Regions from separate parts of the Homo sapiens genome. Here regions 2, 3 and 4 are each linked to region 1. Evidence: fine-mapped expression QTL. A gene starts in region 1. Each other region holds a variant in brackets. All regions are shown on one strand. Distances are between the middles of the regions. Region 1 holds the start of UPK3A (uroplakin 3A). Region 2 holds the start of SMC1B (structural maintenance of chromosomes 1B). Region 3 overlaps RIBC2 (RIB43A domain with coiled-coils 2). Region 4 overlaps WNT7B (Wnt family member 7B).

Region 1 (8,136 bases):
AATTTCCTGGGCCTACTTCCTCTCACAGGTGATTCTGAGCTGGGCCTTTAAGATCAACCCTGCTGAGGCCAGGCACGGTGGCTCACACCTGTAATCCTTGCACTTTGGGAGGCTGAGGCTGGTGGATCTTGAGGTTAGAAGTTCAAGACCAGCCTGGACAACATGGTGAAACCCTGTCTCTACTAAAAATACAAAAATTAGCCAGATGTGGTGGTGCACACCTATAGTCCCAGCTACTTGGGAGGCTGAGGCAGGAGAATGGCTTGAACCTGGGAGGCGAAGCGTGCAGTGAGCCGAGATCGCCCCACTGGACTCCAGCCTGGGTGAGAGAGCAAGACTCCATCTCAAAAAAAAGAAAATCAACCCTGCTGGCCTCTGATAAACTGCAGGTTCACAACCAGGTTCACAAACAATTGTTGAACAAGAAATGTCAGTCTATAAAAATTCTTGGAAGAAAACCGCAGCCCTGTTCAAGAGTTCCTTACCTCTGGGACATTTTCTGTGTGCTGAAGATAAGGATCTGATCATCCGCTCTCTGCATGTCAGGGCTGAGAGGTGACCAAACTCCCTCCCCACTTTCTAGAAGGTAAACCGACACCCAAAGAGGGGAACAGTGCATTTCTGTGGCAGAGAACAGACTCTGTCCCCCAACATTTTCACTTTGAAAAATGTCAAACCTACAGAAACATTTCAAGAACACTACAGTAAATACTCATACTTATTTACCAATTGCTAACATTACACTAAATTTACTTTCTCTTTTTCTCTCGAATCTCATATATATGTTAGTTTCAGGTATCATGACACTTTATCCACATGCAAGCTGGGAGGATCCCTTGAGGCCAGGAGCTAGAGACCATCCTGGGCAACATAGTGAGACCCCATCTCTACCAAAAAAAAAAAAATCAAAAAAAACTTGCTCAGCCTGGTGGTGCATGCCTGTAGTCCCAGGATTGCTTGAGTCCAGGAGGTCGAGGCTACAGTGAACTATGATCTTGCCACTTTGAGCTATGATTAAAGCTGCAATAACAGAGCCAGACCCTATCTCTTAGAAAAAGGATAAAGAAAATCAGCAGAAACTAATTAATTTCTGTATGACGTTGATGACATAACCTCACTGGCAGAAAAAGAATAAAACGATCTGAGTAATTATAGAGCTGGGTTGTCCAGGGGTACCTCCTTAGTGGAGTACACTCTAAGAACTGGGAGGCCTGTGACAGAACCCCAAACCTCACTAGTGACTTTGTTATTGGCAGTGGGGAGGGCGGAGCCATTGTGAAGCAACTTTGGGTTATCCTAGGATTGGTGGTACCAGAACCCAGATTCTCACTGTAGGATGAGGGAGATTTGGAATGGAAGAAGGAAAATGCTGGTGTTTTGTTATTTGTAATTAGTTATGGAAAAAAATTACTAAAACAAGATTTTTAAGTGAAAAGAAAAGAAAAAGGCTGGCCAGGCACAGGCCTGTAATCCCAGCACTTTGGGAGGCTGAGGCGGGTGGATCACTTGAGGTCAGGAGTTCGAGACCAGCCTGGCCACATGGTGAAACCCCGTCTCTACTAAAAATACAAAAAAATTAGCTGGGCATGGTGGCGTGCGCCTGTAGTTCCAGCTACTCAGGTGGGTGGCTGAGGCAGGAGAATCTCTTGAACCCAGGAGGTGGAAGTTGCAGTGAGCCAAGATCACCCCATTGCACTCCAGCCTGGGCAATAGAGTAAAACTGTCTCAAAAAAAAAAAAAAAAAAAAGAAAGAAAGAAGGAAGGACAAAGAAAGAAGAAAGAGAGGAAGGAAGGAAGGAGAAAGAAAGAAAGAAGGAAGGAAGAAAGGAAGGAAGGAAGGAGAAAGAAAGAAGGAAGGAAGGAGAAAGAAAGAAGGAAGGAAAGAAAGGAAGGAAGGAAGGTAGAAAGAAAGAAAGAAAGAAAGAAAGAAAGAAAGAAAGAAAAAGAAAAAACTAGGTTCATTGAGACAGACCGAGAAGCAGTAATACCCAGTTGCAAGAGGCACCTTGCCACTGTTAGATCTTAAACTCCAGTCTCCAGTGAAAGGCACCAGTGCCCCTTGGAGAGATGGCTGAATCCAGAGCTGGGACAGGGAATGTCAAGAGGAGCCCGGGACATTTTATTGTGCCAGAAAGTAAAGAGGTTCTCAAAGAATGGTGGGAGCGTGAAAGCAGCTAGCACAGAGCTGCTGGAAGGAGCTGCCAACAGCCAGGCCTGGGAACATTTGAGCACAAAATAAATAATGGAAGTCATACATTCAGCTTGCTTTTTTTTTTTTTTTGAGACGGAGTCTCACTGTGTCACCCAGGCTGGATTACAGTGGCACGGCGCGATCTCAGCTCACTGAAACCTCCACCTCCTGGGTCCAAGAGATTCTCCTGCCTCAGCCTCCCAAGTAGCACTGATTAGAACTCACCGTCATGACCATGTCCTGCCCAAAAGGTTTAACTTGAATTTCATCAATAGGAAACCATCAGACAGATCCACATGCAGGGACTTTCTGCAAACCAGCTGGACTGGATGCTTTGCAAATGTTCACATCAGGAAAGACAGAAGCAAAACAAAACAAAAGGCTGAGAACTGTCTGATGGTTTCCTATTGATGAGATTCAAGTTAAACCTTTTGGGCGGGACATGGATGTCCAAGTAGCTGGGACTACAGGCGCCTGCCACCACGCCTGGCTAGTTTTTTGGGTTTTTTTGTATATTTAGTAGAGAAGGGGTTTCACTGTGTTGGCCAGGCTGGTCTCAAACTCCTGACCTCATGATCTGCCCACCTCGGCCTCTCAAAGTGCTGGGATTACAAGCGTGAGCCACCGCATCCAGCTGGGGAAAGATTTTTAGGGATCAAGGGCCGGGCGCGGTGGCTCACGCCTGTAATCCCAGCACTTTGGGAGGCTGAGGTGCGTGGATCACAAGGTCAGGAGATTGAGACCATCCTGGCTAACACAGCGAAACCCCGTCTCTACTAAAACAATACAAAATATCAGCCAGGCATGGTGGCAGGTGCCTGTAGTCCCAGCTACTCGGGAGGCTGAGGCAGAAGAATGGCGTGAACGTGGGAAGTGGAGCTTGCAGTGAGCCGAGATCACGCCACTGCACTCCAGCCTGGGTGACAGAGCAAGACTCCGTCCCCCCCAAAAAAAAAAAGAAAAAAAAGATTTTTAGGGAACAAGACATACATTAATCCAGAGATACCAACTTTACCAAATGATGAAATGGAACATCCCCAATAATGGGACACACTGACCTCATGTGCTTCCTTCCTCCATTCCAAATCTCCCTCATCCTACAGTGAGAATCTGGGTTCTGGTACCACCAATCCTAGGATAACCCAAAGTTGCTTCGGAATGGCTCCGCCCTCCCCACTGCCAATAACAAAGTCACTAGTGAGGTTTGGGGTTCTGTCACAGGCCTCCCAGTTCTTAGAGTGTACTCCACTAAGGAGGTACCCCTGGACAACCCAGCTCTATAATTACTCAGATCGTTTTATTCTTTTTCTGCAAGTGAGGTTATGTCATCAACGTCATACAGAGATTAATTAGTTTCTGTTGATTTTCTTTATCTTTTTTCTAAGAGACAGGGTCTGGCTCTGTTATTGCAGCTTTAATCATAGCTCAAAGTGGCATGATCATAGTTCACTGTAGCCTCGACCTCCTGGGCTCAAGCAATCCTGGGACTACAGGCATGCCCCACTAGGCTGAGCTAATTTTTTTTTTTTTTTTTTTGGTAGAGATGGGGTCTCACTATGATGCCCAGGATGGTCTCTAGCTCCTGGCCTCAAGGGATCCTCCTATCTTGACCTCCCAAAGTGTTGGGATTACAGGCATGAGCCTCCTTGCCCCTCTTCTGTTGTTTTTTTCCTATCCTTGTTGACTTACTTTTATTTCTTAAATGTAAAATTGATTTAAGGTGCATCCAGAGATGTGCACAGATTCTTGTGATGGAGGGAACCGCACAGTCATGGTGAGGAGTCCATCATAATTTTCAAACGCCCCTTTAAGAAGTAGGCATTAACACCCTGCTCCATCCCTTTGGAGGCAGCCCTGGGCTGAGCACTGGACTCCTGGGTTCCACCAGCCTCAGTGTCTCCAGGAGACCAAGCGCGGCCGGGGGTGAGTCCCTGTCCCCGCGCCCCCCACCACGCTCCAATACTTACCCCCTGCCCCACCCCCCAGCCTCCCGGGCCTTGGCTTGTACCTGTGAACCGAAGGGGTCATACTAGGCGTCATACTAGGGTCTCTGGATAGCTCCCAGGCCTGGACTTCGTTTTCCAGGATATCACCTTTACTGGTCAACCCATTTTGTTTCGCGAGTGCCCAGTGAGTGTTTGGCACGTAATAGAGCCTCCATAAATAGTTGTAGAAATTAGCGTCATTTTACAGTATGGAAACTGAGGCTCCAAGTGGGAGTGGCTTGCCCTCAAGGTCCCATTGGTGAGAGACGCTGTGGAAGGGCTGCCCTGGCCTGGGCACACAGTAGGCGCTTTGATGCGGGCTGGAGAAGGTCCTGCCCGGTGGGATTGCGCCCTGGGGCACCGCGCACGGGTCGGGGAAGCCCGGGGCAGGGCCGTATGCAAATAGCGCGCGAGGAGGCCGCGGATTGGCCAGCCCAGGCGGGGGCGGGGCGCGCCGAGGGCCCAGAGCTGGCAGGTGCCCTGGCAGGGACAGGTCTGGTGCCCGCGCCTGCTCGCTGGACCGCCCGCCCCGCGCTCTGGCGGCTCCTCCCGGGCGATGCCTCCGCTCTGGGCCCTGCTGGCCCTCGGCTGCCTGCGGTTCGGCTCGGGTAGGCGGTGAAGGGCAGGAGGGGGCTGAGCCCAGAAAGAGCGGGCAGCTCTGCCCTGGGGCGCCCGCCGCCTGGACCCTGATTCCTGGCGCTGGGGACCCAGATATTACTGTTATGAATAATAGTGATAGCCAACGTTTACGGGCCTCCTCTGTTGGGAATCCGAGGGCTCACAGATGGCTGCAGCCCTGCGATGTGTGTTGCAAGAGACCAACATGCAGGGGGGCTGCGGTAGGACAGAGAAGGGACTAGCCCCAGCCCCATGGTGACGCCTGGACGGGGGCAGATAGAGAGATATTTCGGCCGAGGAAGCAGCATGGGCAAGTTCATGGAGGGGAGACAATATTGGGCTGTCCTGGGAACTGCCAGTCCATGGGACCAGCTGGAGCCTGGGGTGAGGGGAGCCTGTGGGGGAAGGGGTGAGGCTGGAGACCGAACAAAGCAAAGCCCAGAACTTCAGGACCTCACTGCCTTTCCAGAGAGGCTGGACTTCGTCAGGGGGCGCTGGGGGACCATGGGAGGGCCATAGCCAGAGAATGAGGCAGTCAGACTTGCATGTGGGGGGAGGGCCCAGGTGAGGAAGGTGGGACGGAGGAGGGCTGGGCCGATGGCATGGAGAGATGCTTAGGAGGGGCAGTGGAGTTCTTGGCAACTGAGTGTCTGCAGCAGGGAGAGAAGGCAGCAGTTTGGCCCGACCGCTCCATTTCTGAGCAGGATGACTGGGCAGGGGGCAGTGTCTGAGACAGCTTATGCGGTGGCCCAGGGGGAGGGTGAAGCCCAGGGCCTGGCACACAACACGTGCTCAGTAACTGCAAGCAGAGTGGGTGTGGACAGTTCTGCCGGAGGTCAGTTCCCATCCTCACTGCCTCCTCCAGCTGTGAACCTGCAGCCCCAACTGGCCAGTGTGACTTTCGCCACCAACAACCCCACACTTACCACTGTGGCCTTGGAAAAGCCTCTCTGCATGTTTGACAGCAAAGAGGCCCTCACTGGCACCCACGAGGTCTACCTGTATGTCCTGGTCGACTCAGGTAAGGGTCCTGCTTCCCTCTGGCTACTCCAAAAGGGGCTCTGACCTGTCTGCAGGGAGGAGGGAAGGAGGCAGATAGAGGAACCCTCCATGCCTGTAGTCGTCTCATTAAACAGGTACTGCAGCCACAGACCTGTCCTTGCCTTGCAGGGACATCCAGTTAGTGAGGGAAGTAATAACACCACCAGTCACTGAACACCTACACCATACCAGGCACTTTGCACACCATAGAGCTAGTATCTACAACCAGCTTGTAAGGTAGCTATTACCAATCCCCATTACAGAGCAGGGAAGCAAGGCTCAGAGAGGTGGAATAACCCCCCCTGGACCTCCCAGGGCTGGAGAGTGAATCCTGATCTCTCTAGTCCCCAAGCCCAAGGTCCTTCCTGAGGCTTCGAAAGGTGGCTCAAGATTGGTGTTTCTGAGACAAAACCATGCATTTGGACCTGCTGCTGTGGCCCAGCCCCAACCCCTGCCCTGGAGGGGATCCTGAGCTTCTGAGACAAGCCAACATCAACTCTTGCATTTCTAGCAGCCAGTCATTTACAACAGCTCATTCGGGACCATCCTTTTCTTCTTTCAGCATGTGTTTATTGACTATAAACTAAAGTGCCTGATCTCCGGGCACTGTAGGGAATTTCTCTCCCATTTCATAGAAGACTAGGGTCTGAAGAGGTAGAGTGAGTTGTCCAAGGTCACCCATCTAGTAAGGAGGAGAGCTGGGTCCTGCCTCCACGTTATTTCCCTTGGACCGATGACCTTCCTTTCCCATTTTACACAAGAGAGAATCCAGGGCTTTCAGCAATGAAGAGACAAAGGTCTGTTGGGATGGGGGGTTGCAGGAATGTCACAAGATAAGGCGAGAGTCAGACACAGCGCCCAAAGCAGGGAGGTGATCCTTGTCCATCTCCCACATTGCACTGAGAGGGCAGAGACTAAGTTTGCCCCATGCCTGTGATGCCAGTGCCCAGCACAGAGCTGGGGCAGAAAGGATGATCAGGCATTTGATGAATAACTGAGTGAGTGTCGCTGAGCCGGAGTGGCCAGAAGCCTGACTCCCTGCACCGCCTCTGCAGCCATTTCCAGGAATGCCTCAGTGCAAGACAGCACCAACACCCCACTGGGCTCAACGTTCCTACAAACAGAGGGTGGGAGGACAGGTCCCTACAAAGCTGTGGCCTTTGACCTGATCCCCTGCAGTGACCTGCCCAGCCTGGATGCCATTGGGGATGTGTCCAAGGCCTCACAGATCCTGAATGCCTACCTGGTCAGGGTGGGTGCCAACGGGACCTGCCTGTGGGATCCCAACTTCCAGGGCCTCTGTAACGCACCCCTGTCGGCAGCCACGGAGTACAGGTGGGTGTAAACAAACCACTACAGGAGAGCCGCGGCAGTTCCCCAGTCCTGATGAGGGAGAGCAGGGGCAAAGTAGGAGCAGCCACACTTCTTGAGAACTTATATGCTGAGAACATCCCAGGTTCCAGGCAGGCCACGCTGAGCCTCAAGTTCAGAAGAGGCCCCTCTTGGATTGACGCTCTGCAACTACCGTCTTGAAATTCTGTATTTTATTTATTTATTTATTTTTTGAGACGGGGTCTCCACCATTTCCCAGGCTGGAGTACAGTGACACAATCTCAGCTCACTGCAACCTCCGCCTCCCAGGTTCAAGCGATTCTCTTGCCTCAGCCTCCCGAGTAGCTGAGATTACAGGTGCACACCACCATGCCCGGCTAATTTTTTGTGTTTTTAGTACAGATGGGGTTTCATCATGTTGGTCAAGCTGGTCTCGAACTCCTGACCTCCAGTGATCAGCCTGCTTTGGCCTCCTCCATAGTATTGGGTTACGGGCGTGAGCTGCCATGCCTGGCCCATCTTGAAATTCTTAATTGTTGAACAAGGGCCCACATTTTCATTTTGCTCTGGGGCCCACAGATTATGCAGCTGGTCCTGGCCCATCTACGTGTGTGGAAGTCACCCACCCAAACCCCTTCGTCTTACAGGAAAGGAAACTGTGCCAGAGAGGGAAGGTCACCCAGTGGAAAGCTGGGGCCCAGCATGAACAGAAACCCTACCAAAGCCTTGCCATCTGCAGCCTCAACTTCTGCTTTTTTTTTTTTGAGATGGAGTTTCGCTCTTGTTGCCCAAGGTGGAGTGCAGTGGTGCAATCTCGGCTCACCACAACCTCTGCCTCCCGGGTTCAAGCGATTCTCCTGCCTCAGCCTCCTGAGTAGCTGGGACTACAGGCGCCCCCACCACGCCTGGCTACTTTTGTTTTTGTATTTTTAGTAGAGACGGGGTTTCACTGTGTCAGCCAGAATGGTC
Region 2 (8,136 bases), 130 kb after region 1:
TAAATACCAGATATACCTCAAAATCCACCGAAAGTTTAATAAAATTATTTTTCTTATTGAAATGGCCAGTTATATAATAATATACATGGGAATAAATGCATTTAATGAGTCAACAAATATTGAGTGTCTATTACATGTCAAGGTCTCTTTTACAGTGGCGAACAAAACACATGAAAGTCTCTTATCTGAAGAGCATATATCCTAGTCAGGATGTAAAAGGAAAATAAATCTCAGAACCCCTAACTCACTAAGCCAAAGGGAAAAGTCAACCTGGGAACTAGGTCATGCAAACTTGCCTCCTATTTTGTTACTAAATAAGGTAGCTGTAAAGATTGAAAAACAACAACAGCAACAAAAACTGCATGCCTCCCTCACAATTTACCCACAGGGAAATTCCTTGTGGGCCCCAAGATCTTTACCCTAAAACAGTTCTGTTGAATTTTAACCTGACAATATAAATTGATAGCTTATCTTCACATGTACAGGACAAAGGACAGAACTCAGTCATCCCTCTGCTCACCTGAGATAAATGTATATCTGATTGTCTCCTCTGCACTATCTTTATCTTTTTTTTTTTCTGAGACAGGGTCTTGCTCTGTTGACCAGGTTGGAGTGCAGTGGCGCAATCTTGGCTCACTGTATCCTAGACCTCCCGGACTCAAGTCATCTTCCCACCTCAGCCTCCTAAGTACTGGGACTATAGACTCACGCTACCACACACAGCTAATTGTAGAGACAAGGTCTCACCACGTTTCCCAGGCTGGTCTCAAACTCCCGAGTTCAAGCAATCGTCCTGCTGTGGCCTCCCAAAGTGCTGGGATTACAGGCATGAGCCCCATGCCCAGCCTATATTATCTTATATAAAAATGCAGATTCACTGAGCTAGCCTAATGCAGAAGTGACTATGCCTCTACCCCTGTCACATGTGAACAATTGATCAAAGGCTCAAAAGAATGCAACCACTGGTCTCTTTTCTATCCACACCTTTAAAAAAAATTTCTTCCTCTTTCCCAAATCCCCGCTCTTTTCCCGTAAATGTATATATACACACACACACAAATTCAAACATTTCACTCAAGTTGCTTTTTGGTGGTAGAAAAAACTGTCTATAATAAAGCCAAAAATATGCATACAATTTGTTCATCACTAAGAAAAACTGATAAACATAAAGAACCTCAAGAATAAATTTTATGATTTCTCTGTCTTCAAGGTACTCCTTCCTTCATCTTATTATTATTTTTTTGAGACGGAGTCTTGATCTGTCGCCTAGGCTGGAGGGCAGTGGCGTGATCTCGGCTCACTGCAAGCTCTGCCTCCCGGGTTCATGCCATTCTCCTGCCTCAGCCTCCCGAGTAGCTGGGACTACAGGTGCCTGCCACCTCGCCCAGCTAATTTTTTGTATTTTTAGTAGAGACGGGGTTTCATCGTGTTAGCCAGGATGGTCTCAATCACCTGACCTCGTGATCCGCCCGCCTCGGCCTCCCAAAGTGCTGGGATTACAGGCGTGAGCCACCATACCCGACCCTCCCTCCTTCATCTTAACTAAATATCCAGATTTTAAAATGTTATTTGACAGTAGGGGGATTTGAACAATTATGTCAGTTAAGGAAAAGCAGACATAATTGGAGAAATATGTGGCGAATCAAACAGGTTCTGTTACTTGCTTCTGAGATATGCTATGCAAGAGAAAAAAGAACTCTAGTTCATTACACCAGTAGAATAATAAACCATACCCTCCAAAGAAAGAAAAAATGGGCAATCTTACTTGACTCTTGAAAAATAAAATGAAAAAAAATTATAAAAAAATACCTCGGATAATCCTTGCAAATGTTTTCTCTTCGCCACTTTCCTCCACATATATAATTTTTACACTTGCAGAAGAAGAAATAGGTTTTCCAATATGTGCTCCATGAATGAGTTCTTGAATATTTTTCACTCTTAAATTAGCTATTTTCTCTCCCATTACAAAACTAAGTGCATCCATTACATTAGATTTTCCTGGGGAAGAAAAGAGATAAAACATTATTCATTCTTAATGATAAAAAGCCCTACCCAGAGCTGAAGAAATCAGGCCACCAATCGAAGTGAAATATAGCCAAAAGACATGTCCTTTTTAATCAATGTTCAAAATGCATGACTGAAATATTTGATGTAGATAACTCATTTCTTCTATGCATCTATTGTAGACTATTAAGAGGTCTAAATTTAAGGACTGAAATACACCTATCTAAATCCCAGCTCTCTTCCATTGTTAGGTATCACACCATGGCAAATCATTTAACTTCACTGAGTTTCAATTATCCTCATTTTATAAATATGGAAACTACCTAAAGCATTGGTGCAGCACCAAATCCTCTTATACTCTAAAAAAGAGAGGCTAAGGCTGGACGCGGTGGCTCATGCCTATAATCCTAGCACTTTGGCAGGCCAAGGTGAGCAGATCACCTGAGGTCAAGAATTCGAGACTAGCCTGGCCAACACGGTGAAGCCCCCTCTCTACCAAAAAATATAAAAAATAGCCGAGCTTGGTGGCACGCACCTGTAGTCCCAGCTACTCAGGAAGCTGAGGCAAGAGAATTGCTTGAACCTAGGAGGCGGTGGTTGCAGTGAGCCGAGATTGCACCACTGCACTCCAGCCTGGGCAACGAGGAGAGACTCCAACTCTAAATAAATAAATAAATAAATAAATAAATAAATAAATAAATAAATAAAAACAAGAGAAGCTAACTAAATCCAGGATCGAGGGCTAGATTAAAATTGTTTGATTGGTATGAGATGGTGCTACAGAAAATTTATATAGCAGGCTTGATACTGTTATCTTTTGAAAGTCCTACTTACAAGGTTGGCTGGCTTACAGGGATTTGGATTTGGATGTTGGGAGGGTTTCTAACATTCCCTATTAAGAATGGCTCACAGTGCCTAAACTATCTGTACAAACAATATGATTTAATCTGAACATATGCTTTCTTTCTAGGATTCTGGAATATTATTTTATAATTTCTTTTGAGGAAGGTCTGGCCTAAGAAGATTCTGGAACTTGGGTACATGATAGGCAAACGGTGCCTATGTGACAATCTCCCGATAAAAACGCTGCACATTGAGTCTTTAGTGAGGTTCCCTGGTGGGCAACATTTCACATGTGTGGACTAGCTGCTGGAGGAATGAAGCACTGAGTGACACCAATGGGTAAGGACTTGGAATCTTGCAACTGGTTTCCTAAGACTTTGCCTCATATATCCTTTCCCTTTGCTGAGTTCGCTTTGTATTTTTTCACTGTAATAAATAATAGTATTGAGTCAAACTATATGTAGAATCCTGTGAGTTTTCCCAACAAATTACTGAACCTAAGGGTAGTTGTGGGCATTCCTAACCCCAATGTTAAATCTGTTACCCAATCATTGGCCCATAATTTTCTCTAAGACAATTTCCAAGGTGCAATGTCAATGCAGCTGTCACCATCACTATTATTTCTCCTTTTCACATCCCTTCCCCTATATCCACAAAGCAGTTTAAATTTTCAGGCTGGGCGCAGCAGCTCACACCTGTAATCCCAGCACTTTGGGAGGCCGAGGCAGGAAGATCACCCGAGGTCAGGGGTTCGAGACCAGCCTGACCAACATGGTGAAACCCCGTCTCTACTAAAATACAAAAAATTAGCCAGCTGTGGTGGCGTGCGCCTGTAATCCCAGCTACTCGGGAGGCTGAGGCAGAAGAATCACTTGGATCCAGAAGGCAGAGGTTGCAGTGAGCTGATATTACACCACTGTACTCCAGCCTGGGCAAGAGAGCAAGACTCCATCTCAAGACAAAAGAAATAATTAATTAATTTTCAATGCCAAAACTAGGAAAGTAACATAAACAAAGCAAAGGAATACTATCAGCCACCGGAAATATGGCTTAGTTTTAGAGGTTTAGGGTCTTTCTAAAAAGAACTAGAAATAAATTGCTGCAAATTTATTTAGCTGAGTCTCAGTCAACTAACAGGTATGAAACGGCTTTTTTGGGTTAATGGATAATCTGCACATTGAGGGCTATTGTAAGACAGTGCATATGGACAAGATAAACATTCACTGAATTAAATTATTAAGTAATTTAAGTATTAAGTAACAAAACTAAACATAAACTTTTAAAATCAATAAGTCAATCCTTATTTAAATCTGCCTAAAATAAATACTTCTCATCCAAATCCATTTATTCCATTAAATTTCATTAATATTGTCCCTGCCTAATAAAGGTTATAGTCTGTCAAGAGAGTCAAGGCAGCATAACATACCACAAAGTGGCAACAACCCAAACTATCAACTGATGGATAAACAAAATGTAGTATATCTATACAGTGAAATATTATTTGAAAATAAGAAGGAAATAAGTACTAATACAAGGAGCAACATAGATGAATCTGAAAAACATTATGCTAAGTGAAAGAAGTCAGACACAAAAGGCCATATATTGTCTGATTCTATTTATACGAAATGTCCCAAATAGGTAAATCCATAGAGACAGAAAGTGAATTAGTAGATACCAGGAGCTAGGTGGAGAGGAAATAACAGGGAGTGATTGCTAATGAGTACAAGGTTTCTTTGGGGGCAATGAAAATGTTTTGGAAGTAGATGGTGATGATGGTTGCACAACTTTTGAATATACTAAAAACCACTGAACGGTGCATTTTATTTATTTATTTATTTTTACTTATTTATTTTTGAGATGCAGTCTTGTTCTGTTGTTGCCCAGGCTGGAGTGCAGTGGCGTGATGTCAGCTCACTGCAGCCTCTGCCTCCCAGGTTCAAGCGATTCTCCTGCCTCAGTCCCCTGAGTAGCTGGGACTACAGGCGTGCGCCACCACGCCAGGCTTTTTTGTATTTTTAGTACAGATGGGGTTTCATCATGTTGGCCAGGCTGGTCTTGAACCCCTACCTCCAGTGATCTGCCTGCCTCAGCCTCCCAAAGTGATGGAATTACAGGTGTGGGCCACCA[T/C]GTCAGGCCTTATTTTTTTGTTGAGACAGAGTCTTGCTCTGTCGCCCAGGCTGGAATGCAGTGGCACAGTCTTGGCTCACTGCAACCTCCGCCTCCCGGGTTCAAGTGATTCTCCTGCCTCAGTCTCCCAAGTAGCTGGTATTACAGGCACGTGACACCACCCCCAGCTAATTTTTGTATTTTTAGTACAGACAGGGGTTTCACTATGTTGGCCAGGCTGGTTTCTAACTCCTGACCTAAGGTGATCCGCCCGCCTCGGCCTCCCAAAGTGCTGGGATTATAGGCATGAGCCACGGCGCCCGGCCAATTTTATTTTATATTTATCTTATTTTATTTTATTTTAGAGTCGAAGTCTCGCTCTTGTTACCCAGGCTGGAGTGCGGTGGTGCTATCTTGGCTCACTGCAACCTCTGCCTCCCGGGTTCAAGCGATTCTCCTGCCTCAGCCTCCTCAGTAGCCGGGATTACAGGTGCATGTCACCACACCCGATTAATTTTTGTATTTTTAGTAGAGACAGGGCTTCACCATGTTGGTCAGGCTGGTCTCGAACTCCTGATCTCATGATCCACCCGCCTCGGCCTCCTAAAGTGCTGGAATTACAGGTGTGAGCCACCGCGCCCAGCCTTTTTTTTTTTTTTTTTTTTTTTTTTGAGACGAGAGTCGCACTGTGTTGCCAGGCTGGAGTGCAATGGCGTGTCCTTGGCTCACTGCAACTTCCACCTCCCAGGTTCAAGCGATTCTCCCGCCTCAGCCTCCAGAGTAGTTGGGATTACAGGCGTGTGCCACCACACCCAGCTAATTTTGGTATTATTAGTAGAGACCTCCGCAGGTCCTCTGGCCTCTCCAGACCTCAGTTTCCCCAACTATAAAATGGGGAGAGCAGCCATGCGCCATGGCTAACCAAAGACGGTGTCGCCAGGAACTTAGGAAAAGCTCAGTAAACTGGGTCATCATCACTACATTCCTGGGTCAAAGCTCCCTTGGATCCAAATGGTGGTTCTGGCTGCTTGGAACCCATTACCTCCTCGACAGCTCCCTCTCACTTCAACTTCGGATGAGAAGGGAAAAGGGACGCGAGTGACCAGGGCCAAGGGCAAGAGCAGTCCCCGAAGCAGGAGTGAGGGCAGAGAACAGGGCCCAGGGCGGGACCGGGGCGGAGAGGAAGCGTCAGGACCCCCAGGGTGGGGGGCGAGGGTTGGGAGCCCCTGAGATGAAGGGCGAGGGCCGGAGCTGAGGTGGGGTGGGGTCCCTCAGGGTGTCGGAGGAGGGTCGGGAGCCAGGAGGTGGAGGGCGAGAGCGGGGCCCGAGGCGGGGCCGAGTGGAAGGGTCAGGACCTCCGAGGTGGGGCGGAGGGACAAGGGTCGGGACCCCTGAGGTGGACGGCGAGGACCGGGGCTGAGGTGGGGTGATGGGCAGGGGCTGGGCCAGGGCCAGGCCGGGATCCGGTCGCGGTCAGGCTCCGGGACTGGAAGGGGAAGGCCGGCCAGGCGCCCGCGGCAGACGCCCACACCCCACAGGCCACGTGTGGCCTGGACGCCTGGGACGGCGGAGGCGCTCCGGTGGCGCCCTGAGCTGCTCAGTTACCAGAGCCGTTGGGGCCGATGATGCAGGTGAACCTCCGGAAGGGGCCAATGACCTGGCGGCCCCGCCACGACTTGAAATTTTCCACAAGCAGCAGCTCCAGGTGGGCCATGGCGCCGCCCTCCACGCCTCACCCGCGTTATCAAGCGCCCGCGGAAAAAGCGCGGGAAGGGATTCGCCAAGTGTCGCGAGAAGAGAGCGAGACGCGGCAAGCGCGGAGCCGTTCCTTAGCAACGAGTTGTTGACATTTCCGAGAGAGCGGGAGCGTCTGTACCTCTGCGGCGTCACTGGGAGCCCGACGGAAAACTGCGCTAAAGGCTTGTCTTTCCCCTGCCCGACCGAAGGAGCCGACCTTGCCTGCGCTACAGCTTCCTTATTTTCGTCGCCTGTTCTCCTGATCCTGCGTGTTCTAAAAACCCCTTAGGCTTTCCATGGGTTCCCAGACCATGGCGGTGGCGCTGCCCAGGGACTTGCGGCAGGACGCCAACCTGGCAAAGAGGAGGCACGCGGAGCTGTGCAGGCAGAAGCGGGTCTTCAACGCCAGAAACAGGATAATTGGGGTGAAAGGGCAGGGGCCGGGACGGGGTTAGAGCGGCAGATGCGGGCGAGGGGCTGCGTGGAGGGGGAAAGGAGATGAGTTCTAGGATGAAACATCTGAGCCAGGAGGCAGCAAACGGCCTCCTGCAGGGCCAATAATGCTCCCTCTCGAGCTCGCCTGGAGTCACCAACGGTTCTCCTCCCCTGAGCCAGATTTTCTACAACTCGTTTACAGTGGGGCAGAGATTAAAAATAATAATAAGTAGGATTGTTATTACTGAATAAAATGATCTGGCTCTAACCCTTCTCCTCTGTTTTTCCATTTATAGGGAGACACTGAAGCCTGGGATGTTCAAGTTCATGACCAGAAGATAAAAGAAGCTACTGAAAAAGCTAGACATGAAACCTTTGGTGAGCATTTCCTGAATGCTTATCTATTGGTTTAGGATTGTGTGGCTTTAGACTCCAGTCTTCCCCACCGTCCCCCTGCCCCGCCTTTTTTTTTTTATTTTTTATTTTTTTTATTTAATAGAGATAGGGTCTCACTATGTTGCCCAGGCTGGTCTGGAACTCCTGCGTGCAAGTGATCCTCCCACGTCAGTCTCCCAAAGTGCTGGAACTACAGGCATGAGCCACGGTACCCAGCCCTCCTTTCTTCACATATATAAAAAGTTGTCATTTTCACACTCTTCTTCCTTTTAAATTTCACAATTTCTTGTGCCCAGTTAACTTAATGCACTGATTCTTCTCTTAAAAACAGCTATTGAATTCGAATGTGGATTATAAGAAATAGATTTTAAGGGTATATGTATGTTTTCCTTCATTTTCTTAAAAAACTGGATAGGAAAAGCCTTAAACACAGAAAGACACACACACACACTCACTTGCTCTGCTCAAAAGTTTAAGACCGTCTATGAAGGACAGCTGTTTATACCAGACAACACATATGTCCGGGCTCACACCCTCAAGCTGACTCAGAGACAGACATGATTCAAATCATAGTATTCAAGTACCTTGAATACTGTTATTCAAGGTATTATTATT
Region 3 (8,136 bases), 140 kb after region 1:
TTTTGTTTTGTTTTTGAGATGGAGTCTTGCTCTGTCACCAGGCTGGAGTTCAGTGGAGCGATCTCGGCTCACTGCAACCTCTGCCTCCCGGGTTCAAGCGATTCTCCTGCCTCAGCCTCCCAAGTAGCTGTGACTATAGGCACGTGCCACCAAGCCCAGCTAATTTTTGTATTTTTAGTAGAGACGGGGTTTCACCATCTTGGCCAGGATAAGCTCTATCTCTTGACCTTGTGATCCGCCCACCTCGGCCTCCCAAAGTGCTGGGATTACAGGCGTGAGCCACCATGCCTGGCCGCAAATGAGAGATCTTGTTTCCCCACATCCTTACTAATGTGTGCCATTATTAGCATTTTAAATATTTTGCCTTCGATTCATTGGATGTTTCCCACCTTGTATGGGTGATCATCCTTTCATAATTGTATTGATTACTCAGGTTTTTTTTTTTTTTTTTTTTGAGACAGAGTCTCATTCTGTAACCCAGCCTGGAATGCAGCGGCGTGATCTTGGCTCGTAGCAACCTCTGCCTCCTGGGTTCAAGCGATTCTTTTGCCTCAGCCTCCCGAGTAGCTGGGACTACAGGCTCCTGCCACCACGCCCGGCTAATTTTGAATTTTTAGTAGAGACAGGGTTTCACCATGTTGGTCAGGCTGGTCTTATACTCCTGATCTCAGGTGATCCGCCCACCTCGGGCTCCCAAAGTGTTGGGATTACAGGTGTGAGCCACCACACCCAGCCTCAGGTTTCTTTATAGTGATCTGCCTGGCCGTTCCTACACTTTGCCCATTTATTGGGTTGGGGTTTTGGGGTTTTTTTAATTGATTTGTAGGTACTCTTTGTATATTCAGGATACTAATCCTTTAATGGCTGTGTTACTTTTTTGGAGGGTTGTATTACTTTTGCAATCACTGAAAAAATTAGTTTTTAAAGTAGATTCATGGGCTGGGTTCAGTGGCTCACTTCTATAATCCCAGTGACTCAGGAGGCTGAGGCAGAAAGATGGTTGGAGGCCAGGAGACCAGCCCAGGCAACATAATGAGGCCCTATCTCTAAAAAAGTAAATAATAAAAAATAAAATGGATTCAAATTTATTTTTTCCTCTGAATCCTAAGCTTATGGATATGCTGTATCTCTTCCAGCTGCTGAAATGAGGCAAAATGACAAAATCATGTGCATATTGGAAAACCGGAAAAAGAGGGATAGGAAAAATCTCTGTAGGGCTATCAATGACTTCCAACAGAGCTTTCAGAAGCCAGAAACTCGCCGTGAATTTGATCTGTCCGACCCCCTAGCCCTTAAGAAAGATCTTCCAGCCCGGCAGTCAGATAATGATGTTCGGAATACGATATCAGGAATGCAGAAATTCATGGGAGAGGATTTAAACTTCCATGAGAGGAAGAAATTCCAAGAGGAACAAAACAGAGAATGGTCTTTGCAGCAGCAAAGGGAATGGAAGAACGCCCGTGCTGAACAAAAATGCGCAGGTAATGAAACAGAAGAGACGAGCTGGTCTCAACGCTCTCTTCAACAAACCAACCCTACAGTTTTTTTTTTTTTTTAAGCAACCCTACAGTTTTTTTTTTTTTTTAAGCAACCCTACAGTTTTTGTGGGATTTGTTTAAAGTCCTACCAATGTGCACAGACAGCCACATGCTACTTTGGCCCTGTGGGGAAAGAAAAGTCAGAGCCTGCCCTCCAGGAGGGAAACACCTGCAATGACACCTCAGTCATGTGGAAAACACTTTCCGTGTCGGGGTCCCAGTTGGATGCCGGCGTGCAGAGGTAACTCAGAATCGGTCCCTGCCCTCCCAGTCTGCGGGGAAGGTGAATGGGAAAGATGCAGGTCTTCCTGAGTCTCTTGGGTGCTGTGGTAGAAATTCCTACAGGGGACTTTGGGGGTGTAGTTGCAGGCATGGTGGTCACATGCCCTCACCAGGACTCCCCAAGCCCAGGGAACCTCTTGGGCAAAGGCTCCAAGGCATGAAACAGCCTCTCATTGAGGGAACTGCAGAAAGCCCCATGTGTCCTCACTGAGGTCAGCAGCATTCTGCTCTCCCAGCTCCTCTTCATGCCTGCACTCGAGCAGCACTGACCCGCCCAGCCACTTCTGTGCCGGAAAGACCGGGTAACGAAGACGACAACATCCCTGCTCTCTTGGGGTGTGTCAGCGGGTGATGGAATAGTGAGGAGCTATGAGGAAGACAAAACAGGGACCAGGCACAGAGAGGAATGCACTCCGCCTTCTTGAGCGCCTCCTCTCTGCTTGTTAGTTTGCAGTCTCCTTGCTCGGCCCATCCTCCTCCAAGCCTCTTCTCTCCCCAGTCTACTCTCCATGAGTGATGTCTCCCCAGATCATCTTCTCCCATTCTTCTCCCACTCCTACCAGATTTATGCCCTCCCTGCTCCACTGGAACTGCCCTGGCCAACCTCACCAGTGACCTCCATGTCGCCCAATCCAAGGTCGGTTTTTGACCTTCATCTGGACCTAACAGTCGATCACCTCCTGCTCCTGGAAATGCGCATGCAATTCAGCTTTCAGAACACCACTCTCACATTAGCTCCCTTCCCATCCAGGTCCTTTGTTGGTTTCTCATCTGCTCAACCTCTGGATGTTGTTCACACCAGTGCTCTCCTCTACCAGCTAAACTCACCCGAGTGATCTTGTCCGGTCTCATGGCTTTAAATGCCACCTATAGGCCATCATTTCCCAGGTTTATACCTCCAGCCTGGACTCTTCCCTGAATCCAGACTCATAAATTCATCTAACTTCTCTTGGATGTCTAATGCACTTGTCAAGATCAGCACGAGTCCAATAACTCTGTTCTTCCCTGCAGACCTGACCTTCTACCCACATCCGTGACAGCTCCTTTCTTCTAGCTGCCCAGGCCCCAGCCCAGGTAATCTTGACTCCTTCCTTTCTCTCCATTTTTCAGCTACTTTCCACACCCTCCAACATTCCCATTCTGAACTAAGGCTATCAGCATCTCTCGGCTGGGCGCAGTGGCTCATGCCTGTAATCTCGGCATTTTGGGAGGCTGAGGAGGAAAGATCACTTGAAGCCAAGAGATCAAGGCCAGCCCGGGCAACAAAGTGAGACCTCATCTCTACAAAAAATTAAAAAGTTAGCTGGGCATGGTGTCGTGCCCATGTAGTCCCAGCTACTCAGGAGGCTGAGGCAGGAGGATCACTGAGCCTGGAAGGTCAAGGCTACAGTGAGCCGTGATTGTGCCACCGCCCTCCAGCCTGGCCAGCAGAGTGAAACCCTGTCTCAAAAAAAAAAAAGACCGGGCACAGTGGCTCATGCCTGTAATCCCAGCACTTTGGGAGGCTGAGGCGGGCAGATCACGAGGTCAGGAGATCAAGACCATCCTGGCTAACACGGTGAAACCCCATCTCTACTAAAAATACAAAAAATTAGCCGGGAGTGGTGGCGGGTGCCTGTAGTCCCAGCTACTCGGGAGGCTGAGGCAGGAAAATGGCGTGAACCCGGGAGGCGGAGCTTGCAGTGAGCTGAGATTGTGCCACTGCACTCCACCCTGGGTGAGAGTGAGACTCCATCTGAAACAAACAAACAAAAAGCATCTCTCAGCTGCTCTTTGGGTCTCTCCCCTTATCCTACAGAGTAAACATTTCACTCAGAGTAAACGATTTTTTTCAGAGACCTACAACGCCTTCACAGTCTGGCCTTATCTCCTGCTATGCTGCCCTCTCACTCCATTCTTTCCACACTATCTTGCTGTTTTCAGACGTGAGTATATCAGGCTCACTTCTGCCTCAGGGCCTTTGCATGTGCTGTTCCCTCTGCTTAGAAATGTCTTTCCCCAGATATCTGTAGGGATCACCACTCTCCTCCAGGGCTGTGCTAAAGTGCTATCTTATCAGTGAGGCTTCCCCTGACCCCCCTATTTTAAACCCTGTACCCTCCTCCCACCCCACATTCCGTATCCTGTTGCTTAATTTTTCTCCATAGCCTTGATCACTGACGTGTTGTATGGTTCATCCATCTCCCAAGTGGTCTAAATTTCCACCTCTGGCCAAAAGGCTTTGTTTCAGCTGTGGACTTGGTTCTTCAGCAGTCTCCTTGACATCTCACAGGACCCTTCACAACATGTCGGAAAGCAGCCCTGGATCCTCTTCTGCATCTGCTCCTTTTTCCATCTTTCTCCTCCAACTAACTGGTACCTCCTGCCCTTAAACCAGAAGTCTAGGGAATCATCCATGACCCACCCCTGACTCCAGGCCATCTCTGACTCTTGTCCCTTCTACCTCCTGCATATATTTTGAACTGTCCGCTTGTCCCCATCCCTGCTGTCACCCTTGTGATGCAAGCCACCATCTCAGCTGAACAGACCTCTGCCAAGATCTTTCTGATGGCCTCCACTTCCTTTCTTGCCCCTCTCTGGTCCATTCCCAAAACAGCAGTCAGTGATACTTTTAAACAATGTGGAGTTTGGCCAGGTGCAGTGGTTCACACCTGTAATCCCAGCACTTTGGGAGGCCGAGGTGGGTGGATCCCCTGAGGTCAGGAGTTTGAGACCAGCCTGGCCAACCTCTGCCTCCCAGGTTCAAGTGATTCAACACTGTTCTTACTTTGGGAGGCCAAAGTGGGCAAATCACGAGGTTAGGAGTTCAAGACCAGCCTGGCCAACATGGTGAAACCCTGTCTCTACTGAAAATACAAAATTAGCTGGGCGTGGTGGTGCGCGCCTGTAATCTCAGCTACCCCGGAGGCTGAGGCAGGAGAATTGCTGGAACCCAGGAGGCAGAGGTTGCAGTGAGCCAAGATGCACCACTGCACTCCAGCCTGGGCAACAGAGCGAGACTCCATGTCAAATAATAATAATACTATTATTATTATTAATACTATTATTAATAATAATAATTAAATAATTAATTATTATTTAAATGCCACCTATAGGCCATCATTTCCCAGGTTTATACCTCCAGCCTGGACTCTTCCCTGAATCCAGACTCATAAATTCATCTAACTTCTCTTGGATGTCTAATGCACTTGGATGTCTAATTAATTATTATTATTAATAATAGTATTATTAATAATAATAATAGTATTATTAATAATATTAATA[A/ATAATAATAGTATTAT]TAATAATAGTATTATTAATAATAGTATTATTAATAATAATAATAGTATTATTAATAATAATAATGTTATTATTCTGCAAAGGAGGTATGTCCTGCTTCACAGGTAAGGACACAGGCTCAGCAAGGCTAAGTAATAGTTGAGGTTAACAGAGCTCGGAAATGTCTGGGCTGGGATGTGAGCCTCCTCTGACTCCAAATCTTCACATTTTGCTTTTGGACCTTCTACCTTGACCCCTTCACCTCCTACTCTTCCTCTTTCTCTTACTCATTGGCCTGACCAAGTCCTCCTGCCACTCCACAGTATCTGTCATCTGGCCCCACTTCCTCCATAGAGTCCTGTCTGGTTTCTTGCTCTTTCACTTCTGGATTCCCCTGAATCCTTTCCCAAAACCTCTGCACCTGCTCCCAACCCACTTCTTTTGTCCTGCAGGTCTCAAACGTCATTTCTTGGGGCTGTAGAGTATCTCTTGCCCACTGTAAGGATGTAGCTGCCTCAGGATAGAGCAGGACAGCAAGGGGCACACCACCAGCCTGTCCCAGGACCCCAGCATAGTAGTGATCACTAGCACTCATCTGGGAGCTTGACTCTCCCACAGCCTTCAGAGGCAGGTCCTGTCATTATTGTTCCCGTCCTCATGCTCATGGCTAAGGACGTGGTAGGAGGCAAAGGCACGAACGGCCACACGTGGGAAGGTGCTCCTGTGGCCAGGTCGATCTGATTGCTTCTTGCCTCCTTTCAGAGGCCCTCTACACAGAGACAAGGCTGCAGTTTGACGAGACAGCCAAGCACCTCCAGAAGCTGGAAAGCACCACCAGAAAGGCAGTTTGTGCATCTGTGAAAGACTTCAACAAGAGCCAGGTATAGGTACTCCGCGACCTCGGGCTCGACGACTGGAGGGGAGGATGAGCCCACTACGGCTTCCCAAGGCTCTCCGGCTTCCCTGGGATCCCAGTCTCAGCCTGCTCCCTGGTCACATGACCGGCCCTGACAGAGACCCTGATGGGCTGCCTGATGACAGAGATGGATGAGACCCAGTCCTGTGCCTTAGCTCTGAATCTTGGAGGGAAACCTGCCAAACTAGCCATGTAACCTGGGGAAGTCAGCTCACCTTTCTACACCTCGGTTTCTTCTTCTGTAACATGAGGATGGTGACATCCACCTAGACTGTTACCGCCTAGCTCTGCTCCACTGCCTGGTGCTGGTTTCCATTCTTCCCACCTCTCAGACTTCCCCTTTACTGAGAACAGCTACTTGGATGCTCACCGATGGCAGGGATGATGAAGAAGATCATAATGAGCTCGAACACTGGGGCCTCCTGAGACCTCCCACCTCCTCTCTAAACTCTGGCCCCCCTCCTCCCACACACTCCCCTCCCCTCCAACCTGATGCTGAAATTGCTGAAATAGGTTCTTCTTTTTGTTTCTTTGGTTTTTTTGTTTGTTTGTTTTTGAGACAGGGTCTCACTCCATCACCCAGGCTGAAGTGTAGTGGCACGATCATGGCTCACCGCAGCCTCGACCTCCCAGGCTCAGATGATCCCCCCACCTGAGCCATCCAAGTAGCTGGGACTACAGTCACGCGCCACCATGCCCAGCTAATTTTTGTATTTTTTTGTAGACACAGGGTTTTGCCATGTTGCCCAGGCTGGTCTCAAACTCCTGAGCTCAAGCAGTCCTCCCGCCTCAGCCTCCCAAAGTGCTGGGATTACCACATCTGGCCCTCTTTTCGTTTTGGAAATTAGAGCTCGCCCCCCTGCCTCTCCCTCCCCCCACAAGGTTTTCTTTTCGAATGCAATTCTGTTTTCTGGTGGGTGGGGACTTTGCCTGGGTTCATTGATCAGGTTCGCTCGTCAACTAGAACTATGGTCCCCAAAGAAGGCTGTGCAGGATCTGTGGGAGAGCAGATACCAGAGCCCTGCTTTATATTCATTTTTAACCTCATCACTTTTGATTTCCATGTACATGTGTAGTTATAAGCATGTGCTATCATTAAGGTATAGTAGTACCATGCTGTGAACTAAATATATTGGAGATACAAGCTCAAAACTGTCCTGGTGGAGGCAGGCAGTCAAAAATCCCAGAGAGGCTGGACCAGACACCAGAGAATGTGGGTTTTCAACACGGGGGAGAGGAATGAGGAGAGCCAACTGCGGGGGCTGGGGAGGACCAAAAGGCAAAGCAAGACACCTGAAGTCCGAGCTCACCACCCAGTGAGCTGCAAAGGTCTTAGAGATCATCCATCCCTGCCCTTCATTTTACAGAGGGCGACCAAAGAGGGGAGGCTGTTTGCTCCAGTCCCCACTGCAAGTGAATGGCAGGATGTGGGGCCCTTGACAATTAGTCCACTGTTGGCTGGTGATCTGCTCATTCATTTATGGAAGCGATGGTGATGATGATGATGATAATTCACTCATTCATTCATCAATTCAACCAATGTTTATTGAGCCCTTCCTGCTGGGCATTGGAGTGGCTTTTGCTAAACCCTATTGTCTCATTCATCAATTTATTCATTCATATATTCTAGAAGATGTTTAATGGGCATCCACAGCCTGCCTGGTTTTCTCAGACCCCCGGCTCCTCACGTGGATGCCACGAGGCAGCACCATTGCAAACACTCCTGCACTGGGAAAAGCCGCCCTCTGGCTTCTGCAGCTCTGCTACTAACTACAACTAGGCTTTTTAATTAACCTGGGATGTTAATCCAAAGCCCAAGCAGGCCGGTCCAGTTCAACAGGAAGGACACACGTGAGGGCCTCCAGTTCTTGGGTCGGGGCTCATTTCGTCAGAGAGGCATTGTGGCATCAGGGTGTGGCACGCAGGCTCTGGAGCCCGACCACACGGGGTGCAGACCAGGCTCTGCCCTGCAGCCTTGGGCAGGCCACCCACTGCGTCCATTTGATCATCTGCAGAATGAGGAAGCGACAACACCCTCCTGTGTCGGTCAGAATGTGCTAACCCTTGCTGGGATAAGAAGCAGCAGTCTCAGTGGCTTAAACAGAAAGTTGATGTTCCATGCATGCTCCCTGCCCGCCATGGACAGGCTGTGAGGCCT
Region 4 (8,000 bases), 650 kb after region 1:
TCAAACCCAGGGAATGAATTCAAAGACCAGGAAGGCTGACGGAGGAGCAAAGTGCCTGGGGTCGGGGGCCCTGGAAGGTCCTTCTGCCCCCAGCTTGGCCTCTCTGAGGCTAAGGTGACCTGGGGCAGGAGGAGAGGGGGGATGTGGGCTATGCAGCCCCCAGGGAAGATGCTGCCTGTGGACAGTCTGTGGACCTGGGGGAAAGGCGCAGCTGTAGGCAGGCTCTGGGTAGGAGCTCTAGGGAGGCTGAGCTGGCTCTGGAGTGGGCATGTGTCACCCGATGGAGGGGGTCTAGGAACCCCAAATGATTGTGCGGGCCCAGCCGGTGGACCTTGAGGACAGATGTGGATGTCCCCTCAGAGGTCCTGGAACAACAGCCTGTGACCCTCCTCTTCCTGCCCCATAGGAAGGCTGCAGAGCGGGTCAGGGGATGCCACTGTCCTGAAGTCCCTGAGCAGGCTGGCAGATCCACGGCTGGGTTTGCACCCTTGGAGGACACTTCCCACAAGCCTCCCTTCCAGCCTCCCGCAAGCGCCTGCTCTCACCTGGCTATGCCTGCCCCAGGCTCAGACTCAGTTACTCACCGGTTACTCATCGCCTGCCGCTCCTGCTAATTCCTTTTTTATTTGCTTTTAATGAGCCAAACCCTCTGGTCTCTCGTCATGGAGACAAGGGGGAGGTGAGCTGCAGAGAGTCATAGTTTTGGCACAATCAGTAAGAACGACCTTAGGTCCGGCGAGAGTCGCTGCCGTGGACTGTGGGCTCCCGTGCGCCCGGCACGTTGCCTGTGTTGTCTGGTTTAATTCTCACAACAGCCCACGGGGGAGGGCCCGTTACCCCATGTTACAGACCTAGACGCCCACTCCGAGGGCTTTGTCATGGTGTGCCTAGGTGTGTAGTGGGAAGGGCAGAAGGGCTGCAGGCTTCCCCCGTGTCCCTCCCCAAGTCCCTCCTGGGGCCGTGACTGGGCACCTTGCCAGTCCGCCCACACGCCATCCTTCCTCCAGGCTGACAGCGAGCCAGTGCTTAGACTTAGAAGCCGGTCCTCTGCAGTGGGTGCAGACAGCCTGGACCCATGTGCCTTGCTCAGCAGCTGTCAGTGGCCCCCAAGGCCTCTGAGACGACTTCCAGTGCCTTGGCCTGGCCCCCAAGGCCCCAGAGGCCTGACCCCACCGCTCCTCGCCCACCACTGCCTGCAGCCCAGCGTGGCCTGCCTGCAGGTTGGGCAGCCACCTCTGGTGCACAGTAACTACTCCTGAATAAAGGACCTGCTGGCTTCCTGCCGCCTGCCCTGGGGGACAGCAGCCCCCTCCCTTCCTGGAATACCTGCCCACCCTCCCACATATCCACACACTCCTCAGGCTCTGGACGCAGGGAGGGAGGCTCCCTCCTCCCCGAATGCCCTCTGTAGTGGGCACACCCTCCCCTGGGCTCTCACTGGGTGCCCCTCAGGCTGCAGGCAGGATCCACATCTGATTCTTTTCTGTACCTCCCACCCATCGCTGTTTCCCAAATCCCATGCATGAGCAGGTCTGGACTGGGCACCTCCCCCACACCACCTTATCTCCAAGACAGCCCCATTCTGATCAGACCCATTTCACAGATGGGAAAACCGAGCCTTCAAAGCAGGAAGGGATTTGCAATAGGCCCATGGCAGTGACGAAAGCCATCTGAGCTCAGCAGCTGCCCTAGATGTGTGTGGTGATGGGGAAGCTGGATGAGGGCAGCACGGATGCTCTGTTTGGGGCCGGCAGCTGTCCTGCTGGTACACTTGGGTCTCGGGGGGCCTAGGGGCCTCTCTGAAGACCCACAGCCTACCCAAGCACAGGTCTGTACCCCCAGATTCTAGAGCCAGCAGCAGCATCCAGCAGTATCCCTAGAAAATGCCAGAGCAGACTATATTCTGGCCACCCCTCACCCCACAGCCCTCAAGAGCACTGGGTGGGTTTCTGAGTAATGGTCCTGAAGGTTCCAGCCCTGCGGCAGGATTCACTGTTTCCAGTGCAGGCTATCTCTGGTGCCTCGGCAAGTTACCAGCCCTCTCTGAGCCTGTGTTCCCATTTGATACATGGAACTCAAAATCCTCACCTTGCTGCACAGCCCTAGCTGCCAGCTCTGAGAGCAAACAGGATGAATGGGCATGGTACCCACATCACTAAGATGGTGGGCAGTCCAGGGCCGGCTACGGGTGGACCAGACACAGCAAAGGACTCCAGGACAGACCGAGGTGTCTGTCTGTGCTCCATGCAGACTGGGCTGGAAACAGCCTCTTCCCCAAGGCCAGCCCCATCGGCCCTGCCCAGCTGTCCCCTCAAATCCAGAGTATCAGAGTCCTCAGAGACATGTGGGTAAATGGAGGCTGCTGGGTCAGAAATTGCCTGGCCATGCAAGGGCCATCCAGCTCTGCTCCCTTTTCCGTAAGTTATTTGAACTCAAGCCCTCAAAGGACCCCCTGGCTGGGCCCAGGACAGGCTCAGAGGGAGGAGACGCAGCCCCCTGCCCTGCCTCTGCAGTGCCAGCCAGACCCTGATGTCCAGGGAAGGGGGTGTGTGCTGGGGCAGAGCTGCGCCCTCATCCACAGTCATCTCACTCTGACCATGAGGAGGATGGTGGGGACCCTGGCAGATCTTTGTGAGCAGCTTCTAGAAAGAGCAGATGTGTGTCCTGAACAAAGCCAGGGCTTGGGCAGGATGAGGCTTCCCCCTCTTCTCCTCAGGGCAAAGCTGGGGGCTGAGTCCACCCTCCCAGCCGCAGCTGCCACTCCTCACCATCCACTCAAGCTCCCTGCCACTTCCTAGCGTCCACAGGGGCCGGTGCACTTTTGTTAGAAAGCCATGGTTGAGCTCCTAATGACCTGATTAACTGCACGGAGGAGGAGGTGGGAGAGGTACTTGGTGCCCTCCTAGGAGGAGAGCCAGGAGTCTGCAGCCTCAGTGCTGGGAAGGCCCTTGGGGACCATCCAGTGCGGCTCCTCCATCCCCAGCAAGGAGCCTGAGGCCCAGAGGTGGGCAGCATGCTCCCCAAGGTCACACAGCAGCTCAGGAAATGGGGGATCCAGGACATGAGGTTCTCAAGTGACTGAGGTGAGGGCAAAGGTCTGGGGGCCACACATGCTCCTGGAGCCTTCTGGAAGCAAGGGGGAGGCTCAGAGTCTGACACCCTGCCTTCAAGTCCAGACCCTGAAATTGGCCAGCTGAGTGACCTCAGACTGGTGAAGGGGCCTTTCTGTGTCCCTGTCTCCCTACCTGCAAAATGAGAGAATTGCTCCAATCTGGCCAGAAGGGCACACACAGTCCTGGGGGCAGGCTGACCTGAGCTTCATGCCTGTAGGTGTGACACACGACACATTTGGGATCTTCGTGGGCAGACACACATTTGGGCATCCCTGGGCAGCAGGTGTGCACCTCAGCACGTGTCCCTGGCGTACACCTGGGCTGACCCTTGGAGGCAGTGCCCGCCAGCTGCCATGTGAACCTGTGCTCACGGGTCTGTGCTTCCGGCCCACACAGTTCAATTCTCCTCCCGTACTTGCCCCTCTTTTTAAAAAATGACATTTTTGTCCGGGCACAGCGGCTCACGCCTATAATCCCAGCAGCACTTTGGAAGGCTGAAGCAGGTGGATCACCTGAGGTCAGGAGTTCGAGCCCAGCCTGGCCAACATGGTGAAACCCCAGGTCTACTAAAAATACAAAATTAGCCAGGCATGGTGGCAGGCACCTGTAATCCCAGCTACCTGGGAGGTTGAGGTAGGAGAATCGCTTGAACCTGGGAGGTGGAAGTTGCAGTGAGCCGAGACCGCGCCATTGCACTCCAGCCTGGGCAATAGAGCGAGACTCCGTCTAAAAAAAAAAATGACATTTTCTACAACTCAATAATAAAATGGTTAACAACTCAATTAGAAAGGACAAAGACTAACGGGTGAAGGGATAAAGAAAAGGTGGTATAGATACACAATGGAGTATTACTCAGCCATGAAAAAGAATGAAACCCTGTCATCCCTGCAGTGGCACGCAGGTCATCATGTGAAGTAAAAGAAGCCAGGCACAGAGAGACAAATATCACATGTTCTCACTCACATGGAGGAGCGAAAAAAGTTGAAGTTATTGAGGTAGAGAGTGGAATGACAGACACCAGCGCCTGGGGAGGGTGTTGGAGGATAAAGAAAGGTGGGTTAAGAGGTACAAAGATGGCTGGGTGCTGTGGCTCACACCTGTAATCTCAGCACTTCGGGAGGTCGAGGCGGGTGGATCACCTGAGGTCAGGAGTTCAAGACCAGCCTGACCAACATGGTGAAATCCCGTCTCTACTACAAATACAAAAATTAGCCAGGCGTGGTGGTGTGCGCCTGTAATACCAGCTACTTGGGAGGCTGAGGCAGGAGAATCGCTTGAA[C/G]CTGGGAGAGGGGAGGTTGCAGTGAACCAAGATCTCACCACTGCACTCCGGCCTGGGCAACAAAGCAAGAATCTGTCTTGAAAAAAAAAAGAGAGGTACAAATACACACAGGTGGAAGGAGTGAGGTGTAGTGTCTGACAGCATGCTGGGGTGACTACAGTTAAGAACAACATGTTGTGTATTTCAGAACAGCCAGAAGAGAGAACTGGAAATGTTCCCAACACATAGAAATGATAAATATTCTAAAGGAAGGAAATCTTAAATACCCTGACTTGATTGTTACACATTGTATACATGTATCAACATATCACATGGACCCCATAAATATGTGTAATATTACGTATTAATTTTCAATCAAAAAATAAAAGCTAAAAAATAGTAGGCCAAGGACCTGAACAGACATTTGTCCAAAGAAGGTATAAAAACATCCAATAAGCAGACAAAAGATTCTCAGCATCATTAGCTGTCAAGGAAATGCAAATCCAACCCACAGTGAGATGCCACTTCACACGCACTAGGAATAAAAGGCAAAAAAGACTGACAATACCAAGTGTTGGTGAGGATGTGGAGAAATGGGGACCCCTGTATGCTGGTGGCAGTGTGAGATGCTGGTGGCAGTGTGAGATGCTCGTGGCAGTGTGAGATGCTGCAGCCACTGTGGCAAAGTTGGGCAGCTCCTCAAAAACTTAAACGTAGGGTCACCATGTGACCCAGCACTGCCACTCCTATGCATACACTTCAGAGAAATGAAACAGGCGCCCACTTATATATTGTGCAGAAGTATTCATAGCATCCTTATTTGTAACAGCCCAAGGTAGAAACAACCCAGATGTCCATCAATGGACGAAAGGATAAAGAAAATGTGTTCTATCCATACGGCAGAATATTACTCAGCCTTAAAAAGGAATGAAGTATTGATACATGCTACAGTGTGGATAAAACTCAAACATATCGGCTGGGCACAGTGGCTCACGCCTGTAGTCCCAACACTTTGGGAAGCTGAGATGGGCGGATGCCTTAAGCCCAGGAGTTTGAGACCAGCCTGGGCAACATGGCAAAACCCTGTCTCTACAAACACACACACACACACTCACACACACACACACACACACAAAAATAGCCAGGTGTGGTGGTGCACGTGCCTGTGGTCCCAGCTCCTCAAGAGGCTGAGGCAGGAGAGTCACTTGGGCCCAGGAGGTCAAGGTTGCAGTGAGCCATGTTCGCACCACTGCACTCCAGCCTGGGCAACAAAGTGAGACCCTATCTCAACCCCCACCTCAAAAAACCCCAAAACATCATGCCAAGTGAAAGAAGCTAGACACCAAAGGCCACATATAGTGTGATTCCATTTCTATGAAATGCCCAGAGGAGCAGGAGTTGGAGAGTTAGACAGCACCTGAGTGTTGCCAGGGGCGAGAGGACTGGGACTGATTAAGCCACAGGGTTTCTTTCTGGGGTGATGAAAATGTTCTAAAATCAACTGCAGTGACAGCTACACAACTCTGGATATACTAAAGACCGTGGGCTTGTACACATTAAATGGATGAATTGTGAAGTATGTGGATTAGATCTCACTGAAGCTGTGATGGACACATAGGGCCAATGGATGGCTTTCAGAGGGTTTCATACCCGTGTCCTACTCAATTTAAACCCTCTCTGAGGCCCCATGGGTATGAACTAAGACCCCCCACTTCACAATTAGGACACTGGGCTCAGGAGAGGCAGGCGACTGGCCCAAGGTGACACAGCAGGTGAGACACCGAGCCGGGATCTGACCAGGACCCCAGAGTTTGTGCTCAGCCCACTCCACACCCACCGGGACAGGGAAAGCTGCAAAGTCTGCCTTGTGCCTCACTGACCTGGACGCCACGCTTGCCTGTGCCAGCCTCTTGACACTCTACACACGCGCGACACTGCCTGTAACACTCACGTTATTGCCACCTGTGTGTCCCTGGCACCAAGTACAGCCTCCCTCCTGGCTGGACCTCCCAGAATCCCAGGGGTGAGGCTCTCAGCCTCCCATCCATCAAGTAGTTGCCCAAGGTCAAGTGCAAGGCCGAGCACACAGCAGGGCAGAACCAACACACTGAACCCGGGGAGCAGACAGGCTGGGAGCGGCTCACAGACAGTGCCGCCAGAGGCCAGGGGTCAGAGCCACAGAGGAGCCAGCAGGGTAGGGTGGCTGGAGGGACTGGGGTGCAGGGTGGCCAATGAGTGCTCCTCTCAGGAAGGGATGCTGAAGGTGGGTCCCAAAGGATGGGAGAGGTGAGGAACACAGGTTCAGGGAACAGTGCTCCAGGCAGAGGGAACAGCAATGCAAAGACCCTGAGGTGAGAATGAGCTGAGCATGAGTGGTTTGTCCCAGCAGAGATCAGTGATGATGAAGTCGGGGACGGCCCTTGGGGGCTGTACCATGTTGCCCTCAGAGAAGACCTTGGACTTTGTTCTGAAAAGATGGAAGCCCCTGGAAGGTGTCACTTTGACTTACATTGAAAGGGACCCTCCACCCCACCCACCGGGAGGCCTGTGCAAGGGTTTGGGTAAGAAATGCTGATGACCCGCCAGGTAGAGGAGGTGAAAAGCTGCCAGGTCTCAGAGTCTCAGCGTAGAGCTAACGGGATTAGCAAGTGGATCGGGTGAGGGGGTTTAGGGAGGAAAGAGTGCAGAAGGGCCGGGCGCGGTGGCTCACGCCTGTAATCCCGGCACCTTGGGAGGCTAAGGCGGGCGGATCACCTGAGATCAGGGGTTTGAGACCAGCCTGGCCAACATGGCGAAACCCCGTCTGTACTAAAAATTACAAAAATTAGTCTGGTGTGGTGGCAGGGGCCTGTAATCCCAGCTACTCGGGAAGCTGAGCCAGCAGAATCACTTGAACCCAGGAGATGAAGGTTGCAGTGAGCTGAGATCGCGTCAGTGCACTCCAGCCTGGGTGACACTCCAGCCTTTGTCTCAAAAAAAAAAAAAAAAAAAAGAGTGCAGACTCTTCTGCAGTGAGGACCCCAATGCAGTGAGGGCAGCTGGTGGGGGGCTGTTACCAGGAAGCTGGACAGGATCAAGTGGAAAGAGTTGCCTCGGCCACGGGTGGCTTAAGGTGCCCAGGGATGGCAGGAGAGAGGCGAGGGGCAGGTGGGAACTCAAGCCTGGCCCCGCGAAGATGTCCCAGCATTGCCCAGCCCCCACCTCCCGGGGCCAACTCCCCATGGAACTGGGGCTTGTGCTCCGTGACCCTGGCCAAGGCCGTCACTCCTCGAGCCTCAGCTTCCCATTACCATGGGATGAGGCCTGGTGTCGTGGGTTCTTTAAAATCCCTTTAGCAGGGGAGCTTTTGTGAGATAGACTTCCCTGAAGAATAGGTCAGGGGAGGACTGCTGGGGCTGAGGTAGGGTAGGGATGCAGGGTGGGGTGGGGTCCCTGAGGCCTGGCTGGGGAGGGGTCCCTGGGACACGGCTGGCTGGGGAGCTCCTTGGTTTTCTGAGCCCCCATCTGCCCCCTACCCCACCTGATTCCCAGGCTCTTCACAGCCTAGAGCTGGATGGGGAGTACTGTCCCCGCCTCCCCAGTTTACTGGTGTAGAGATTGAGACCAAGGGAGGTGAGGAGACACCCCCG

Evidence for each region. PIP is the estimated chance that this variant, and not a neighbour inherited with it, causes the effect.
Region 2: its variant is fine-mapped to the expression of UPK3A in whole blood (INTERVAL, PIP 0.96).
Region 3: its variant is fine-mapped to the expression of UPK3A in whole blood (INTERVAL, PIP 0.95).
Region 4: its variant is fine-mapped to the expression of UPK3A in anterior cingulate cortex (GTEx, PIP above 0.99).

What each region holds. Positions count from the first base shown.
Region 1 is chr22:45,280,282-45,288,417 of GRCh38, forward strand. It overlaps UPK3A (uroplakin 3A), which reads left to right and starts at 4,668. Exons shown (of 6, transcript NM_006953.4): 1 at 4,668-4,784; 2 at 5,660-5,815; 3 at 6,891-7,170. The coding sequence starts at 4,733. RefSeq lists a silencer at 4,489-4,798.
Region 2 is chr22:45,406,901-45,415,036 of GRCh38, forward strand. SMC1B (structural maintenance of chromosomes 1B) reads right to left here and starts at 6,699. Exons shown (of 25, transcript NM_148674.5): 1 at 6,559-6,699; 2 at 1,810-1,998. The coding sequence starts at 6,667. It overlaps RIBC2 (RIB43A domain with coiled-coils 2), which reads left to right and starts at 6,793. Exons shown (of 7, transcript NM_015653.5): 1 at 6,793-7,115; 2 at 7,422-7,503. The coding sequence starts at 6,987. RefSeq lists an enhancer at 6,782-7,615. The variant T/C (reference allele first, on the strand shown) is at 4,975.
Region 3 is chr22:45,416,466-45,424,601 of GRCh38, forward strand. RIBC2 (RIB43A domain with coiled-coils 2) reads left to right here. Exons shown (of 7, transcript NM_015653.5): 3 at 1,137-1,481; 4 at 5,825-5,943. Among named protein-coding and RNA genes, the nearest start is that of RIBC2, 6.8 kb to the left of the region's middle. The variant A/ATAATAATAGTATTAT (reference allele first, on the strand shown) is at 5,085.
Region 4 is chr22:45,934,167-45,942,166 of GRCh38, forward strand. The region is part of intron 2 of WNT7B (Wnt family member 7B); the gene reads right to left. Among named protein-coding and RNA genes, the nearest start is that of WNT7B, 39 kb to the right of the region's middle. RefSeq lists an enhancer at 1,029-1,529. The variant C/G (reference allele first, on the strand shown) is at 4,393.